Linked DNA regions of Homo sapiens: region 1 is linked to region 2. The links come from fine-mapping of genetic effects on gene expression. A gene starts in region 2. The other region holds a variant in brackets. All regions are shown on one strand. Distances are from middle to middle. Region 1 has its middle 58 kb from the start of GOLGA6L7. Region 2 holds the start of GOLGA6L7 (golgin A6 family like 7).

Evidence for each region. PIP is the estimated chance that this variant, and not a neighbour inherited with it, causes the effect.
Region 1: its variant is fine-mapped to the expression of GOLGA6L7 in adrenal gland (GTEx, PIP 0.95).

The regions. Positions count from the first base shown.
Region 1 is chr15:28,785,669-28,795,181 of GRCh38, forward strand. It overlaps the pseudogene LOC100289656 and the pseudogene PDCD6IPP2. Among named protein-coding and RNA genes, the nearest start is that of GOLGA6L7, 58 kb to the right of the region's middle. The variant A/AG (reference allele first, on the strand shown) is at 4,097.
Region 2 is chr15:28,843,318-28,852,830 of GRCh38, forward strand. It overlaps GOLGA6L7 (golgin A6 family like 7), which reads right to left and starts at 5,327. Exons shown (of 9, transcript NM_001365371.2): 1 at 5,182-5,327; 2 at 3,747-3,875; 3 at 2,903-2,932; 4 at 2,583-2,633; 5 at 2,401-2,494; 6 at 2,212-2,318; 7 at 888-946; 8 at 417-558; 9 at 1-123. The coding sequence starts at 5,232. It also overlaps the pseudogene PDCD6IPP2. RefSeq lists an enhancer at 1,163-1,709 and a silencer at 5,461-5,595.

The DNA.
Region 1 (9,513 bases), 58 kb before region 2:
GGTCAGAAGATCATGTGCGTTTTATGTCAGTTTAAGTTTAGACATTGTTCAGTAAGGAATGTAAATATGAGCAAACAGTTACCTGATTAAATAGAAAACCTAGAAGAAAAATCACCTATGAGAAAGTCAAGAAAATGTGAACTCTGGATTTGTGGCTATTTTCAGAATATTAATTTTTTTGGTATTTAATGGCATTGTGAATATATTTATTTTTAAAAATTCCTTGTCTTCTGCAGATACATATACGGTAATTAAAAAATGATATGATGTATAGATTTTACTTCAAAATAATTCAGAGGAAGAAGGAATGCATATAAATGAAGTGGGAATATAAATGAAACAAAACTGGCTGTGGCCAGGTGTGGTGGCTCACGCCTGTAATCCCAGCACTTTGGGAGACTGAGGCAGGTGGATCACCTGAGGTCAGGAGTTCAAGACCAGCCTGGCCAACGTGGTGAAACATCATCTCTACTAAAAATACAACAGTTAGCCGGATGTGGTGCCGGGTGCCTGTAATCCCAGCTACTTGGGAGGCTGAGGCAGGAGAATCGCTTGAACCTGAGAGGCAGAATTTGCAGTGAGCCAAGATCATGACACTGCACTCCAGCCTGGGCGACCACAGCAAAATCCCACCTTTAAAAACAAACAACAAAAAACCAACAAAAACAAAAAACTGTCCATGCCATGAATGAAAAATTGTTGATGATGTGTATATGTAGGGCAGTTACATTATTTTTCTCAACTTTTTTTACATCTGAAACTTTTTAATGAACACATGCACACGTCCCTTGATAACTGGGGCTGCTTCCCCATTACTCTCTCAATAGCCCTTCTGATTTTCACTTCATCTTCATTCTTAGAGACTCTGGATTTTTTATTTTTTTTGGCAAGTTCAAGTATGTCTTGATCTATGCAAGGACTAGCCAGCATGTCTACCTACTCAGCCATATTATCAGAAACAGAAAAAGTGTCCAGATTCTTGTCTTTTCCTGTTAAGATTTTTTAAATTCCAAGAACAGTCACCTTCTACCAGACACTCTGATGTTGGAAGACAAAGCATATTTCGTAAGTGGCATGATTTCTGTGCTCAAGTTTAGAACAAAGCCACAGATTTCAACATCTCAAAAATAACTTACTGGACTCACCAAATTTAGAAAGATGGAGATTATTTTAAAAAAAGAAAACCTTAATTTACTATGTGACCTCTAAGTATCTCAGCTGAAAATTGTAAAGATAGGTAAATCAAAAGATGCAGATAATCATGCACTTAATGAAGCGCTAAATCAAAGTATTTTTGGCATATGTGAGTTTCATTTTATCACATTTTTTACTGGTACTATAGCTATTTGCAAGTACATATAGAACTACAGTGTTACATATAAACTACCAAAAAGCAACTTTTTAAAAAAATTTTATTATTCTTATACTTTAAGTTTTAGGGTAGATGTGCACAAAGTACAGGTTAGTTCCATATGTATACATGTGCCATGTTGGTGTGCTGCACCCATTCACTTGTCATTTAGCATTAGGTATACCTCCTAATGCTATCCCTCCCCCTCCCCCCACCCCACAACAGTCCCCGGTGTGTGATGTTCCCCTTCCTGTGTCTATGTGTTCTCATTCTTCAATTCCCACCTATGAGTGAGAACATGCGGTGTTTGTTTTTTTGTCCTTGCGATAGTTTGCTGAGAATGATGGTTTCCAGTTTCATCCATGTCCCTACAAAGGACGTGAACTCATCATTTTTTTATGGCTGCATAGCATTCGTTGGTGTATATATGCCACCTTTTCTTAATCCAGTCTATCATTGTTAGACATTTGGGTTGGTTCCAAGTCTTTGCTATTGTGAATAATGCCGCAATAAACATATGTGTGCATGTGTCTTTATAGCAGCATGATTTATAGTCCTTTGGGTATATACCCAGTAATGGGATGGCTGGGTCAAATGGTATTTCTAGTTCTAGATCCCTGAGGATCTAGACACACTGACTTCCACAGTGGTTGAACTAGTTTACAGTCCCACCAACAGTGTAAAAGTGTTCCTATTTCTCCACATCCTCTCCAGCACCTGTTGTTTCCTGACTTTTTAATGATCGCCATTCTAACTGGTGTGAGATGGTATCTCATTGTGGTTTTGATTTGCATTTCTCTGATGGCCAGTGATGATGAGCATTTCTTCATGTGCTTTTTGGCTGCATAAATGTCTTCTTTTGAGAAGTGTCTGTTCATATCCTTTGCCCACTTTTTGATGGGGTTGCTTGTATTTTTCTTGTAAATTTGTTGGAGTTCATTGTAGATTCTGGATATTAGTCCTTTGTGAGATGAGTAGGTTGCGAAAATTTTCTCCCATTTTGTCAAAAAACAGCTTTTTAAGAAATGAGACTAATCTAGCAACTTTATTGAGAGGACGTGAAGTGTTTGGTTAGGAATGGTGCAATTGGTGGTGGTTGTGGACATGTGAGATGTAAGATGCCTCAACTTCCAATGTTGTTCAGAAGCAATCCAGCTTTCTGAATTATTCTTATGAATTCTGGATTTGAAACAGTAACTTCCCAAATGGCAGGGGCTTTCAGCAGAGAGGAACCTGGAGGGACCCTGTCCCTGACACCTTCTGGGTTGTTAGCTCCAGATCAAAAGAACTCCTGATTTGGAAAAAGCTTCTTGAAAAGAAGAGGGGAGGTGACCTTGGTGAAGCCTCTGGGGACATGAGCTATTTTTAGGGCTTTTGGCAGGAAAAGAGCTTTTGAAAACGGAGATAAGGCATGGTATTAAAAAGGCTTACATTGGAGAAAGAAATCATAAAACTCCATACAGTTAGGGCAATAGTTTTGTTTTTTACTAGGACAGCATCAGTTTATTGGAGTATTTATATAACATAAGCAAGGTCTCTTGATATTTTAACAATTAACAACTGGATTTTATTTTCTACTATAGGTGCAGTTTATCATTCTGAATCCAAAGCCAAGGAATATAAACATGTATGCAAACGAGCTTGTCAGAGAGTATCAACGCAATGTGTATCATCTATGCTTTTCAGTTTTGAACATAAAGCAGTGGCTCTGAGCGCGACTCGGAGGGCGACGCCGCGGCCGCAGCCATGGGTGCTGGGCCTGCAGGGGCGCGGGGGGGAGGGCGACGCTAGGACCTGCGGGGCCGGGCGGGAGAGAGGGCTGCCGGGACCGGCCCTAGACACTGAGCCGCGGTGGGATCCCCGCCGGCTCTGCGAGGCCCTGCGAGCGCCAGGGAGGCGCCTCGAGGGAGCCGGGCAGCCGCCGGCCACTTCAGGGGGGCCCGCCACTTCAGGGCGGTCGAAAGAGCCTTGGGGGCACATCTCGGGGTGCGGTGACCCGCCCGGCGCATTTCGGGGGTCGGGGCGCATTTGCCAGGGGACATCTGGAGCCCGGCCCTGCTTCTGTCGGGCTCCAGGGTACCCCTGGATGGCTGCGCTGTGCCCTCGCCGGCGGCCCGGGCGCCACAGCGGCTGAGTTCGCCGGGATCGCCGGGCCGCCGCCGCCCTTGCCACCGGCTGCATGCTCGGCGCCCGGGTCGCGGCCCACCTGGACGCACTGGGCCCCCTGGTCCCCTACGTGCCGCCGCCGCTGCTGCCCTCTATGTTCTACGTGGGCCTGTTCTTCGTCAATGTGCTGATCCTGTACTACGCCTTCCTCATGGAGTACATCGTCCTCAACGTGGGCCTCGTCTTCCTGTTCGAGGACATGGACCAGGCGCTCGTGGACCTCGGCGTGCTCTCCGACCCCGGCTCGGGCCTTTACGATGCTGACTCGGAGCTCGACGTCTTTGATGGGTACTTGGAGTAGGGTCTCGACTGCCGTTCCCCTCTTCCCTCCACGATCCGCAACCCACGCCCTGGACCAGCCGCCCAGATCATGGCGCCGCAGCAGCTGGTTGGGGGCACCATCTGGACGGGGATGGTTCCCCAGGAGGAGACCCTCCCCTGCCTCCGAGGCCTGCCTGCTACCCTCAAAAGCTTCGTGCCAACAGAGAGGTTCCTGTTTGGACCCAGGAGAGTGGAAGAGAGATTGGGACTGAGTGCTGAGATTGGGAAGGCACCTGCTCCCACAGAAGGGGGAACGCA[A/AG]GGGGCGTCCCAAGACCTCATCTGCCTGCAGCGTCACACCGATGGCCTGGCCTCGGCTTCTCATTATTTGCAACTGCCATGGATGTTTACAGGAACCCAGCCAGAGTTTGCCTCCCTGCACTTCATCCCAGAGCGCACCTGCTTCCTCCACTTCACCTTCGGAGAGGACACTTCAAACTGCGGACACACGCAAAAGCAACTCCCAGCTCTGTTTGATGTGAGTTGAGCCTTCAGGCCAGCTGGGTTTAGCCCGAGGCTGGTCTTAGATGCAGCGACTGTTTCAGGGAGTGACTCAGAATAAAAAGAAGCTGAGGAAGCTGTTGGGGGGCTGAGGATGAGATTCTCGCTTCTTCATTTCAGGTTACTCGTTCCTCAGCAAGTTGGCAAAACAGATATCATGCTGGTGAGTGCCACGTTACTCCCCTGGCTGCAAATGCTTTTCTGAAAGTATGAGTGTCGTGCCTACTTAATTCTGATAAACCTGTTTAAGCAATACTTAGGAGGCTGACTTCTTTGGATTAAAAAAATGTATGCAACTCCAAAAAAAAAAAAAAAAAAAAGAAATTCAACATTTAAAAGTTTCATTTCTAGGGCAGTCTTCCGGTTTGGACTACAAAATTATTTTGCTTGTTTTTGTAGGGGATCGTTTTGTGTTGTTTTGTGTCTTTCTCCACATGATGCTTAGCTCTTTCCCCACGTCCCAGATTAAAGTCTGTATTTTTGTAATTGTGGGCACACAATCATATCTCTTTTAATCTTTGCAACGATGTTGAACTTCTGTAGACAGAAGGATAGAGAAAACAGCTTGAAGGCAGTCAGTGTGTTTTTCCATGAAGGGAAAAAAATAAATAAAAAAATTAAAATGGGTGCTTTTTTAAGAGAGATTGTCCTATACTTTTTCATTCTGTTTTTCATCACGTAGTTTGTATCATAGCAAGTTCATTGTCATTCCAGAGTTCAGCTTTGCCCTTGTACTCAGTTGTGCTTTTTTCCCATTGGTTTTTGAGGTTTTGCTAAACTGTTGAATATTTAATGTGGGGACAGGAATGGACTCAGAAGAAATGTTTTTTATTTTGATTCTTACTAGTCTTGTAGGCAAACCTTCCATTACTTTTTATGCAAATAGGATCTAGTTGAATATTGTATATCGAGTAAATATGCGTCTCTCTCTGCTCTTTTCGTTGATATTTACATAACATTAAAAAGATTATACTTTATCAGAGATTCAAGCTTTTTCTTATGAATGAAGCCCTATAAATAAGAATATTTTGTTACAGGGATTTTGTTCTTTTGAAATTTATAACAATAAAGCTAAAAGTTCTCTAAGCTGTTTTATATTTTTTCTTATTTTTCAAAGTGTGAAATTTTTCTATCATCTGAAAATAAATTTTATGTAACTATAGTCTTAGAAATTTAATACATTTGAATTGTATATTTAGCCTCTTTAATATTTCCAATGAATACACTTCTTAAAAGTTTAATTAGGAATACAGTTCTTAGTTTTTGAGCTTTCTCTTTGTTGACTAAATTGAAATGTTAATAAATCATTTATAAATGACTTTTCCTTCTCTCTCTTTTCCTCTCCTAATTTATGCTCAAGGCCAGGTGATTTTATAGACCTTTATTCTGTGTAGTTTATATTACAAAATAATATGTTACATCTTGATTTAGAATTTACATTATAGTATCCAAAATGTTTTTGTCAAATGTGTGCTTTTATCCTCAGATTCCGGCGCCCCTGTGACTCAGAGTCACTTCTTTTTAGGTATGGAGAGTATTAACGGGGAGGAGAAATGATTCGTTTGAGATTTAGTTATCTATATAAAATACGAATTGTCAGGATATTTGAACCAAACTGGGTCATACAATTTCTGTGGCTATTTTGAATAGCCTTACAATGAATTAAGCTTACTAAATTCCTTGTACTTTTCATTTAATAGCTAGATGTTATTGTTTTAATTTGAATAATATTAAGTGAGCCATATTACCAATTAACCTGAATATAAACACTTGCTTGTTTTTAATCTGAGTAGTTTATGTCTTAAAGTATGGAATGGAACTAGTGGTCAATTTTTATTAATCTAAGTGTCTCCCATACTTCTTTAAGCTTTTGGAAAGTTTGGGAAGTTGTGATTTTGCAATGAATAATCTCTCCCCTTGGTTTCATAGGCAATTGAAAAGCTGCAGGCGGGTGCTCTTGCAACTGACGCAGTCACTGCAGCACTGGTGGAACTTGAGGTATTTCTTTTCTCTGTTTTATTGAAAATACTTGTGAGTTTATCTTTATTGTTCTTAAATGACATGAAACTGTTGAGTTAGTCAACCATAAATTATATGACCAGTGTTGCCCACCAATATTAGCACAGTTATGAAGAAGCCTATGATATTGTTGTTTTCATTGGTGACTTTTCTGAGTAATATGAAAGTTGGTTAAATTCCTTCCTTTTCTTGATTTTTTTTTTTTTGTGAGATTCATGAATACAAAAGTTAGTGACTGGATACTGAAGTTTCTCATTTTCAGTAGGAAAATCCTTGAAGTTAACCCCCAAAAAGTGATGTATGTTCTGTTGTTTAAAAATAAATTCCAACTGTCTAGAAGTGCCTAAAGTAGAAGGGGAAGATTCTTCACGAACCTAACAGTTAGATATATACCCTGAAATTGTGTGCTGTGAAGTGTGCCTTGTCCCAGTGTTATGGTTAGGTTTGTCCCCAGTTTACTGTGGACATCGAATAATTGAGTGGGGAGGCTCTCACGTTTGCCATAATTTTTTATACTCTAGAGTGAGGTCCTCTCAGTTCTCTTGATTTGGACCCTTGATGAATTTGTGCAGGGGATATTGAGGTCTTCAGAAGATTGACTTGCTGCTCGAACTTGGAGAAGATAGATTTGTATCTATCAGTTGAGAGGATTATCGTGAAAAATATTTTTCTGGTTGAGAATACTCCTTAGGGAATCAAGTAAGACATGATGACGAAACAATGATGAGTTTGAGGGAGGAGATGATAGTTAAAGGCGACATTTCCAGGTTGACTGGGTTGTGGCCCTTGTATTCAGGCGCTCATACCAGGGCACGCACCCTTTCATGCCTTTCCTTGTGAAAATTGCCCAGGTGTTTACCAAAAGTCCTAGCCGTGTTTTCTGTATATTCTCATGCTTAATTGTGGACCTGAGCTTTTGATCATGCTTTGTAGATTTTAATTTCTCTTGGTAATGTCAGATTGGTCCTAATGTAGTCAAGGAAGGTGAAAGAATATGGTGAGCACCTAGTTCTATTGAATCTTACATGGGGATGTGTGATGCCCTCCTAATATGACTGATACATTTCATGCCAGCTCTACCAGTCATTAGCCATGTGTCCATGGGTGTGGCACAGTCTGTCCTTGACTCAGTTTCCCTATTTATGAGGATAATAATTCCCACTTCACAGAGTTGTGAAGATTAACTGAGTTCATATATGACTAATACAGGACAGTCTCTTAGAACAGTGTGTGGTACGTAGTAAGCACCCATAACTGTTAGCAATTATTACAGTTATGAGGTGCTTTGGAAGTGGTATGTATGAGATGAATATTTATGGTAACTATTAATGACAAGTTTTACAGCATCAAAGAAAGTTTAATTATATGTTGAGGATCAGAGGAGAAAAATGACATAAGAAAGAAGATAGATGTATTTACCACCAAATGTTACCTTTACTCAAAACAGACACACAAAGAGGGCTTCATCTAACTTAACTAATTCAATTGTTAGTTGGAAATTACTTGCATGGAATCAGCATAGGTTTGGGAAAGAAGGTTATTGAGTAGCTGGAGAATATACTAGAATGGCAACCATGAATGCAAAACTGAATAAAATTAAGTTTCTCTTTTTATCTTAGAATAACTTTAATTTTCCTAAGTCATACTTATATATCATGTTTAATATTTCATTCTATTTTCCCCTAGTGTTGAATCTGACTTTTAAGGGATTTACTTATTTATACTTAAAAATGATAAGAATACATTTTGAAATAATGAGTTTCTCCTGAGTAAGTGGACTTATAGTTTTGGATAACTTGTGTTTTTTTAAGAGTGTGGATATGAATTTAAAGGAAAAAAATTTCTTGTTCTATTATTTTTGATTGGAATAAGTCATAAGGATAATGGTAGCATAGAATTCTTCCCCAAGTGACTTTAGAGCATCCCACACCTCAACTTTTAGTTATTTTATTTTATATATATATATATTTTTGAGATGGATTCTCACTCTGTAGCCCAAGCTGGAGTGCAGTGGTGCGATCTTGGCTCACTGCAACCTCTGCCTCCCAGGCTGAAGTGATTCTTGTGCCTCAGCTTCCCATGTAGCTGGGACTACAGGCATGCACCACCACACCCAGCTAATTTTTGTATTTTTTTTTTTTTTTAGTAGAGATGGGGTTTCACCATGTTGACCAGGGTGGTCTTGAACTCCTGAGCTCAGGTGATCCACCTACCTCGGCCTCCCAAAGTGCTGCGATTACAGGTGAGAGCCACTGTGCCTGGCCTCAACTTTTGATTATTAAATTTGTGGAAGAATTTCAATTATCTTTAACAATTAACTTTTCTATGGACTCTTTGATTGAAATACATGTTAATAGTTTAAGGTTAAGCTTACACTAACAGGAAGAATTTTCCTAAATCTTAAGAATTATGTTGGAAATCATGCTTATACTGCCCCCTGCAGTTTCTCTCACCTTGAATAATTGTGATTCATTACCTTAAAACAGGATAGGTTTTCAGATGGACTTCAGTTGGGGAAGTATTGTAATAGCTTGGGTCAATGGAAAGACGTAAGAAGATTGGATTCTAATATTTTTGTACTTAGAAAAATATAAGTAGCAGTATTGAGTCCTTTCAGAATACTGAAAAGTGCTGAGAAAAATTCTGGAGAGCCTTATTAATAATGCATTATGTTTAATTTGAGAATAAATACTTATCTTAGTTTTGGTCAGTCTATTCAGTTAAGTCATGTCTGGATTATTGAACAGATGCAAACAGTCATTGTTCTCTTCTCTTTAGACTTTGGGATATACTTTTTGATTTAAAAAATGATGTTCTTGCCACTGAGCTTAAGGAAACAATACATAAACATATTTTTAAAACTTGCCCGTTATATTATTACTTAGGCAGATATTAAAATTGATATGAATTCCTTAAATACTAATTGTGGATTGAAATGACTGAAATGTTTTAATGGTCTTTATTGCCTAGAAAGAGTATCTGGCTGTATATTTTAAAAATGTGATAATTTGTATTTTCCCAAATAGTGAAAAGTATACTGATCTTAACTCCATGCAGTGAAGGAGGAAGAGACAAGGCAAAAGAAATATGTGTGTGTGTGTGTGTGTGTGTGTGTAGTAGTGTGTTCCACACACACTAAAGGGAATTATGCAGACATA
Region 2 (9,513 bases):
CTGCTCCTGTCTCCACATCTTCTCCTCGTGCTTCCGTAGCTTCTCCTGATCCCGTAGCTCCTCCTGATCCCGTAGCTCCTCCTCCTGCCTCCACATCTTCTCCTGCAAAGTGTTGGTTTGAACCTCAAAAGGAAATAGAGTCATAAGCTAGGTATATAAATGTAATCTATAAAATAACGGTTTTCGTCTATGATTCTTTAAAAAGAAATTTTAAGCCGTAACCCTGAGGTTCTGATTTCCCAGGCATGGTCCCAATTTGTAGATTTTTAGCACACTCTAGAGGATTCTGTGGTGGGACCAGAACAAGGACCCAAATTTTCCAGCTCTTGGCTGGAGCCTCCCCACACCCTGCATGATCCCTAGACCATGTCCCAGCCGGATGCGGCTCCCACACCCCCGGGGCTGCCGCCGCTCACCTGTGGCAGCGGGATTTTGTCCGTCTCCAGTTTCCTTTTTAGCTCCTTGATGTGGAGCTGGATCTCAGACTTTTCAGTTTCTACCAGTCGAAGTTTTTCTTGTAGTTCGGCATTTTTCTCCTTCAGCTCCTTATTGGTTATGCTATGGCCGGAGGCAGTAGAGAAAGGAATGAACGAAGAACAGAAAGGACCGCTTTGGTGATCGACCCTCTACCCTCGCCCCACAACCACAGAACCGTGGCACTGGAAGGGACCCCAGGAATTAAAAGTCCCAGGTGGCAGGCCAGAGAGAAGACATGAGTTGCCTGAGGCTACCCCATGAGTCAGTGGCACAGCCGGCACTGGAGCTTCCCTGCACACACATGTAAACCTGTATGACCCCCTACCATGCTCACCTGTACCCCCCACCTCCCAGCACACCACCCACGCTAAGGGCTCTCAGACCTCCCATCCCCCCCTCCCCTATCCTACATGTTCCTGAACAGCTCCAGACTCATGGCTTCCCTCTCCTTTGTTAACTCCTTGATGTACTGCAAACAGAGAAAGGTCAAGTCAGGATACAGCAGGCAGAGGAGCAGCTGGACGACCAGTAACGACAGCTACACTGATACTCCACAGTAACACTTGCTCCTCTCCGTCACACCCGACATGTTCTCAAGGCGTTTCCAAACCCGTGGTGTCATTTGTTTTTCTTTTCTTTTTTTTTTTTTTTTTGAGATGGAGTTTCGCTCTTGTTGCCCAGGCTGGAGTGCAATGGCGCGATCTCACCCCACCGCAACCTCCGCCTCCCGGCTTCAAGCGATTCTTCTGCCTCAGCCTCCTAAGTAGCTGGGATTACAGGCATGTGCCACTGCACCTGGCTCTCACTTGTTTTTCGGAGAACTCAGTAAGGGTGGAAGGCACAGAGAAAGAGACTGAATTGATAGCTGGCTAACAGGGGCCCAGAGCGATCAGATAATATTGTTATTGCTATTACTGTTATTATTACCACTGTTGGAACCTTTCTTGAGTGCTTCACCAGGCACTATGCTAACAATCCCATTTAATCCTCACAGCCACCACAGGAGACAGTTATCATTATCACCTCTATTGTGTAGATGAAAAACATGGGGTATTAAAGGTTAAGTGCTTGCCTAAGATCACTTAGAGCTGGGATTTCAACACCCAGGTATATCTGATTCTCTAAGCCCATTCTTTTGGTTGGGGGTAGGGGCACAGATAAGGAGGAGGAAATTAATCCTTTGTTGATTTTTGAAAGAATGATACATTGGCATAGTCCAAACCTCAGAAGGTACAGAAGGGAAATATCTTCCCCCAACACTGTTCCTCTCTCCTGAGTTTTTTATGAATCCTTACAAACATGTTTTATGTATATTACCATAATACGTACGTACACACACACACACACACACACACACACACACACACACACGTACATGTGTTCCCTCTCTCTACACAAATGGTAACATACTAAAGATACTCTTCTGTACCTTCATGGTACAAGTACCCTCAACTCCGCCTAGGATTTGACCAAGGCCACAGCCAAGTATGGGTGGGGTGGGCACTTGGCCTCCGAGCTCTGTGTCCAGTGCTCGCTCCCCACAGCGCCCCGCAACTCACCCACAGCAGCTGACTCAGCCCCAACCTGCCTCTAACAACCACGCACAAAAGCAGCAAGAAATGGCCCATGCTGTCTTCTGGGCAGGACACTGCATCCTGCAGAAGGGACCTTTAGGCTCATTCCTCCATCTGCGAAGCTGGGCTCCCAGGGGACCGGGTAGGTGGTTGGACTCACCTTGTCCGCCCTCTCGTGCTCTGCGGACATAGCAGAGAGAGCCCGCTGTAACTCTCCTGCAAAGTGCCAGGAATGATGCAGGCGGGCTGCCAGATCCTTGGAATCTTCTGGAATGAGAGAGGTTGAGCTGCAGCCCAAAGGCCTGTGAAAGTGCCAGGTTGAAGGATGACGGGGTGCCCAGATTCCCACCTTCAAATTTCCTGGCAGCATCCTGGCTGTCATGGAGCGCTGTCTCCAGTTCAGTTTTCTGACACATAAGGATTCGTATGGTATGATCCTGGGCCTTTGGGAGACAAGAAAAGCAAGTGCTGAAAGAGAAGCAAAGAAACCTTCTCCAGAGGACAGGAGGGAACTTCACACCCTCCACTCACCTCTAGCTGCCTCCTTAGGGCTTGCTGATGTTGGTGGCTTGCCTTATTTTCCTATAGAAAAGAAGAGGAAGACAGAGCTCTTACTAGAGGGAGGCAGAGATGGCACAGCAAGAGACATGCCCCCAGAATGGCCCCACTGTCCCAGGACAGGCCCACCCATGGGACCAGGTTATCAGGGACCCTGTGGGGATGGGGTGGAAGCTGGGAGGTGAGCCTTCCTCCCCAAGCTGGGAGTAGGCGAGACGAGACTGGGGCCTCTACATCTGAGTGCCCCCCAAACCCAGCGGTCATGTCGTGAGCAAAGAAAGAAACCATGTTACCTCTTTCAGCTGAGCTCGGTTCTGTTGTTTCTGTGGGGAGAGTCAAAGGAAGGTGACTGAGGGTGGTCCCTCGACTCTATTCCCCAGGCCAGGAAGCGGTAGGCAGGGGTCAGGAATGGATTTTAAGGGCAAAGTTCTCAGACCCAATGGGAACACAAACTGGTCAACTTTCCTTAACGCCCAAAGAAAAAGGATTTGGGTCTTTGTTGGCTTTTGCCCACAGCCACAGAACTGAAAGTCTGAAACTAGATTCTCTGGAAAAGACAGTAACATAAACCTTCCGACATAAGAGTGTGAGAAAAGCCCACCCTTCTGCCAGCTTGTGATGGAGAAAGATGTGTTCATTCAACAAGCATTGAGCAAGCACATAGGGGCCGGGGACGGTTCTTCACTGCTGGGATATAGGACGGAAAAGGCAGACAGGAGCCCTTGGCCCCAAGGTTTCCATTCTAGTGAATCTTTAAATCTCAGACTCTCAGAGCAAACAGAACCTCTGATACTCTAACTCTACCTCCTCAGGAAACGGAAGCCCAAAGAGGAGGGGAGCTTACAGCAGGCCCTGGACTAGGGATTAACACAAAAACAACAGCAACAAATCTGATTTAAGCTTCACACATGTAAGTAAAACATTACCATCCCCATTTTACAGATGTGAAAAGAGAGGCCCAAAGAGCTCGAGCAATTTTCCCTAAACCGTGTCCCTCGCAGTTGGAGAGAGAAGTAGGACTCAAACCCAGAATTCTTAGCCAGTACCCAGCAGTTCTTCCTTCCACAATCTTAACAGTTACCCTCGACCTCCCCCTTGTGCCCCTTGTCCTCAGGAGACCGGCCAGCCAAGACTCACATCCTCAGGCGAGTGGCAGCCCCCCGAAGTGGTTGTCTCAGGGTTAGCGCCATGATTTATTTTCTTCTTTTTGGTGTCGGTTGCTCCGGTACCAACACCAGCACTGTTCCACTGATGATAGTCTGTAAACTGTGGAAAAGAGGAGCAGTGATACTCATGAGAACTACAAGCTCCTACAGTCACTTTACAGTTTATACAAAATACTCTCATAGACGATCTGACTTAATGCCACCAACGACTGTACGAGGTGTTGTCGCAATCACTTAGTGACTGAGAGGGATTGATACCATGGCTAAAAGAAAGGCAATAATGGAACTGAAACTCAGTCTTCTGACTCTGAGCTCTGGGGTGTTGCCACAAATCAGCAGCTGCCAGAGACCAAAACCAGAGGCAGAGGTAGAAAAGTAAAAAGTAGGCAGGAAGGTGTACACTGTGTGGTTTACAGTCGTACATCCTCTTAGAGTCATGTATCCTCAGGGCAGAAGGCAGCCTTTCTGTTAAATGTGGGAATTAAACAGAAAGAGGACAACCCAAGCTGCATTTCAGAGAGAAGTCTTGTATACTCTTTGAAATCTATGTGACTATCATCCCTAAGAACATTAATGTTTTGTGTCTCCCACGAGAATCAAGGAAAACTGATGCTTCAGAAAGATGCCCCATATGTATCCTGTGGCACTCAAAGTACCCCAGGTTGAGATGAGATGAGGAAGATTCAAGTTGTCAAGTCCAGTTTCCCAAGATCTCTTGCACAGAAGATGAGCAAATCTCACTTCAAAGATCACTGACTGATGGGCACTCTGGTCCCAGAACCATGGAGAATTCAAATATGAAGTGGAGAACTTAGAAAAAACTGTTAAAGTCTCTCTGGAGAGTAGAAGCCTGGGAGAAAACCAAACCAAACCCATTATCCCATCAGTGCTGTGCCCAAGTTGCCTCTTTGAGATTGGCATGGGGTCACAGGGTTGGGACCCAGGTACTTGGAGACGTGAGCCCAAAGAGCCCAGGGAAGTCAGGCTTGGGGCAGCGGTAGGTGAGGGCCGAGTATGGAGTGGGGAGCCCCAGGAGTCACCTGCCCAAAGTCACCCTGGGGTGACTGGTGAGGGCAGGTGCTGGGGCATCCGGTTCCTTGGGAACGTGAGCCCGAAGGGCCCAGGGAGATCCATTTTTGGACAATAGGAGGTGAGGGCAGAGTACAAAGCAGGGAGCCCCACGAGTCACCGGCTGAAAGTCACCCTGGGGTGACCGGTGAGGGCAGGGGCAGGACTGCTGAGGGGTTGGGGCTGACACAAGATTTTGGTTGGGGGAGCCCAGAGGCACTGGGGGGGGCCCGGCCCTGCGTGCCTCTGGAGTGACACGGATTCTGGCAGCTGTTCTGCCATCAGAGGGGACCTGGGGCTGGGTTGGGGTTGGGGTGCTGCAATCCGATGCGTTTTACCTTTTTCTTGGTCCCAGCCAATTTTCTTTGTTGGGTTTTTTCGGACATCATGGGGTGGGGAGGGTGGTGGGGTTGGGGTCACATTGGCGTGATCCAGGCGAGGACAGTGATATGCCTCCAGTCACGTACCACACAGCTATGTGACTGAGCCACAGGAGGCGTCACCGGGGCTGCACTAGAATGCGGAAAAGGGGCGTGGCCTTAATGCTCCAAGCCCATTGGTCAATGAGAAAGATGAAAGGGAAAGGAGGCGGGGCCAGGCAGCTGCGGGTCATGAAGGTCCTGTGATGTCACAAGGAAAGCCTCCCATGGAACTGCTGTCCCCGCCCACTCTGGGAGAGGGGCGGGGCTGGCTTTCACTTACTTTTTTTTTTTTTTACATATATAACTTTTTATTATAATTTAAGGTATAGTCGATAATATAATGTTTTTTTTTGTTTTGTTTTGTTTTGTTTTTTTTAATTGATCATTGGGTGTTTCTCGCAGAGGGGGATTTGGCAGGGTCATAGGACAATAGTGGAGGGAAGGTCAGCAGATAAACAAGTGAACAAAGGTCTCTGGTTTTCCTAGGCAGAGGACCCTACGGCCTTCTGCAGTGTTTGTGTCCCGGGGTACTTGAGATTAGAGAGTGGTGATGACTTTTAACGAGCATGCTGCCTTCAAACATCTGTTTAACAAAGCACATCTTGCACCGCCCTTAATCCATTTAACCCTGAGTGGACACAGCACATGTTTCAGAGAGCACAGGGTTGGGGGTAAGGTCACAGATCAACAGGATCCCAAGGCAGAATAATTTTTCTTAGTACAGAACAAAATGAGAAGTCTCCCATGTCTACCTCCCTCTACACAGACACGGCAACCATCCAACCTCTCAATCTTTTCCCCACCTTTCCCCCCTTTCTATTCTACAAAACCGCCATTGTCATCATGGCCCATTCTCAATGAGCTGCTGGGCACACCTCCCAGACGGGGTGGCGGCCAGGCAGAGGGGCTCCTCACTTCCCAGTAGGGGCAGCCGGGCAGAGGCGCCCCTCACCTCCCGGACGGGGCGACTGGCTGGGCGGGGGGCTGACCCCCCCACCTCCCTCCCGGACGGGGTGGCTGGCCGGGCAGAGGGGCTCCTCACTTCCCAGTAGGGGCGGCCGGGCAGAGGCGCCCCTCACCTCCCGGACGGGGCGGCTGGCCAGGCGGGGGGCTGACCCCCCCACCTCCCTCCCGGACGGGGCGGCTGGCCGGGCGGGGGTTGACCCCCACCTCCCTCCCGGACGGGGTGGCTGCCGGGCGGAGACGCTCCTCACTTCCCAGACGGGGTGGCTGCCGGGCGGAGGGGCTCCTCACTTCTCTGACGGGGCGGCTGCCGGGTGGAGGGGCTCCTCACTTCTCAGATGGGGCGGTTGCCAGGCGGAGGGTCTCCTCACTTCTCAGACGGGGCGGCCGGGCAGAGACGCTCCTCACCTTCCAGGCGGGGTCGCGGCCGGGTAGAGGCGCTCCTCACATCCCAGACGGGGTGGCGGGGCAGAGGCGCTCCCCACATCTCAGACGATGGGCGGCCGGGCAGAGGCGCTCCTCACTTCCTAGATGGGATGGCGGCCGGGAAGAGGCGCTCCTCATTTTCCAGACTGGGCAGCCAGGCAGAGGGGCTCCTCACATCCCAGACGATGGGCAGCCAGGCAGAGACGCTCCTCACTTCCCAGACGATGGGCGGCCAGGCAGAGACGCTCCTCACTTCCCAGACGGGGTGGCAGCCGGGCAGAGGCTGCAATCTCGGCACTTTGGGGGGCCAAGGCAGGCGGCTGGGAGGTGGAGGTTGTAGCGAGCCGAGATCACGCCACTGCACTCCAGCCTGGGCACCATTGAGCGCTGAGTGAACCAGACTCCGTCTGCAATCCCGGCACCTCGGGAGGCCGAGGCTGGCAGATCACTCGCGGTTAGGAGCTGGAGACCAGCCCGGCCAACACAGCGAAACCCCGTCTCCACCAAAAAAATACGAAAACCAGTCAGGCGTGGCGGCGCGCGCCTGCAATCGCAGGCACTCGGCAGGCTGAGGCAGGAGAATCAGGCAGGGAGGTTGCAGTGAGCCGAGATGGCAGCAGTACAGTCCAGCTTCGGCACAGCATCAGAGGGAGACCGTGGAAAGAGAGGGAGAGGGAGACCGTGGGGAGAGGGAGAGGGAGAGGGAGACCGTGGGGAGAGGGAGAGGGAGACCGTGGGGAGAGGGAGAGGGAGAGGGAGAGGGAGAGGGACTCACTTTCTAAACTTTAAAACTTTATCACCTTAGTTGAGGTACAAATCCTGTTGTAATGGAAAATTTACAGCGTGCTTAATGATTAGTAAAGCAGATTATATTATCCAACATTCCAATAAGATAAAATAATCACAGTGATTTCTCTTTTTTGGAAAAAGTTTCTCTTATTCTCCTACATTATTGTTAAGTTTTTTTTTTTTTTAAACTAGAGATATGTCTAATATATTTTAAAACACAAAGCTTTTGAGGTGGGTGTGGTGGCTCATGCCTGTCATCCCAGCACATTGGTAGGCTGAGATGGGCATATCACCTGAGATCAGGAGTCAAGACCAAAATTTTAGTATTTTAGTGTGTATTTTAGTATTTATTTTAGTATTTAATACATCATTTAGGGCTACATGTAGCCACAGAAAGAATAAATCTGATTCAGTGACTTAAAGAAATATAGATTTCATTTTTGTCACTTAAAACGTGCAGAGGAAGGCAGTCCAGGGTTCTTTTCAGTTTCCTGATACTTCCTTAGCCTGGTTTCTATTCTTGTGGTCACAATGTGGCTGCTGTTTTTCCAGGCCTTGGATTGCCTTCCAAGGAGGGAAAGATGAAAGGTCAAAAGGCTGAGTTTGTCTCTTTTTAGCTGAAAAACACAGATTTCTCAAAAGTTGTAAAATTATACTGCAATTCAATTTTCATCCTTTTTTTTTTTTTTTTTTTTGAAACGCAGTCTTGCTCTGTTGCCAGGCTGGAGTGCAGTGGCACAATCTCGGCTCACTGTCATAATGTCCGCCTCCATGGTTCAAGTGATTCTCCTACCTCAGCCTCCCTAATAGCTAGGAATACAGGCGCATGACACCACGCCCGACTCATTTCTATTTGTATTTTTAGTAGAGACGAGATTTCACCATGTTGGCCAGGCTGGTTTTGAACTCCAGACCTTGTGATCCGCCCACCTCTGCCTCCCAAAGTGCTGGAATTAGAGGCATGAGCCACTGCGCCTGGCCTGCAATTTTCATCTTTTGGCTGCAAATAAGTTATGTCACTATTCTCAGCTGGGGGAGTGTTTAACTCACATGTTGCTTCCTCTCTGTTACACAGGTTTTAAGATTTATGAATAGGTACTGAATTGTATCAATTGCTTTTTTCTTTCTTGATTGAGCAGTGTTTTTTCTTATCTTTTTATGTTGATAAGGTAACTTAACAGTGATTGGCTTTTGAATGTTGAACATTGCATTTTGGAATTAAATCAACTTTGTTGTGATAAATGATTAATACCATATTATATATGGTTGAGATGGGTTTGCTCCTAGTTCATTTGGTAGTTTTGTACTTACGTTCACAAGAGAAAGTGGAGTCTAAGTTTTTCTGTGTGTTTTTTTTTTTTTTTTTTTTTTTTTTGCCACGGAGTCTCGCCCTGTTGTCCAGGCTGGAATGCAGTGGCATGATCTCGGCTCATTGCAAGCTCCGCCTTCCGGGTTCACGCCATTCTCCTGCTTCAGCCTCCCGAGTAGTTGGGACTATAGGCGCCCACCACCACCCCTGGCTAATTTATTGTATTTTTTTAGTAGAGACGGGGTTTCACCGTGTTAGCCAGGATGGTCTCGATCTCCTGACCTCGTGATCCACCCGCCTCAGCCTCCCAAAGTGCTGGGATTACAGGCGTGAGCCACTGCACCCAGACTTGTGAGGTTTTAATATGAAGTATTAAAGCTATGCTGGTTAGACAATTTGAGAAATGTTTCTTCTCCTATTTCTGACAGAGTTTATGTAAGATGTGTGCTATTTCTTCCTTAAGCATTTGGAAAGAATTCACTTATTAAGCCATGTGAGACTGTAGTTTTCTTTATAAGGTGTTTAATTACAGGTTCAATTACATATATATGAATATTCATTTCGGTAACCTGTGTTTGCTGAATCAATTTGTTCATTTTATCTAAAATTTCAAAGTTGTTCTATTATTCATTTATCTTTTTAATACTTATAAGGTGTGCGGTTAGAATTTGTGCCTTTTGTCTGTTTTGTTAATCAATCTTGCTGGGGGCCATCAATTTTATCAGTGTTTCAAAAAAGCAAACTTTGATTTTATTCATCCC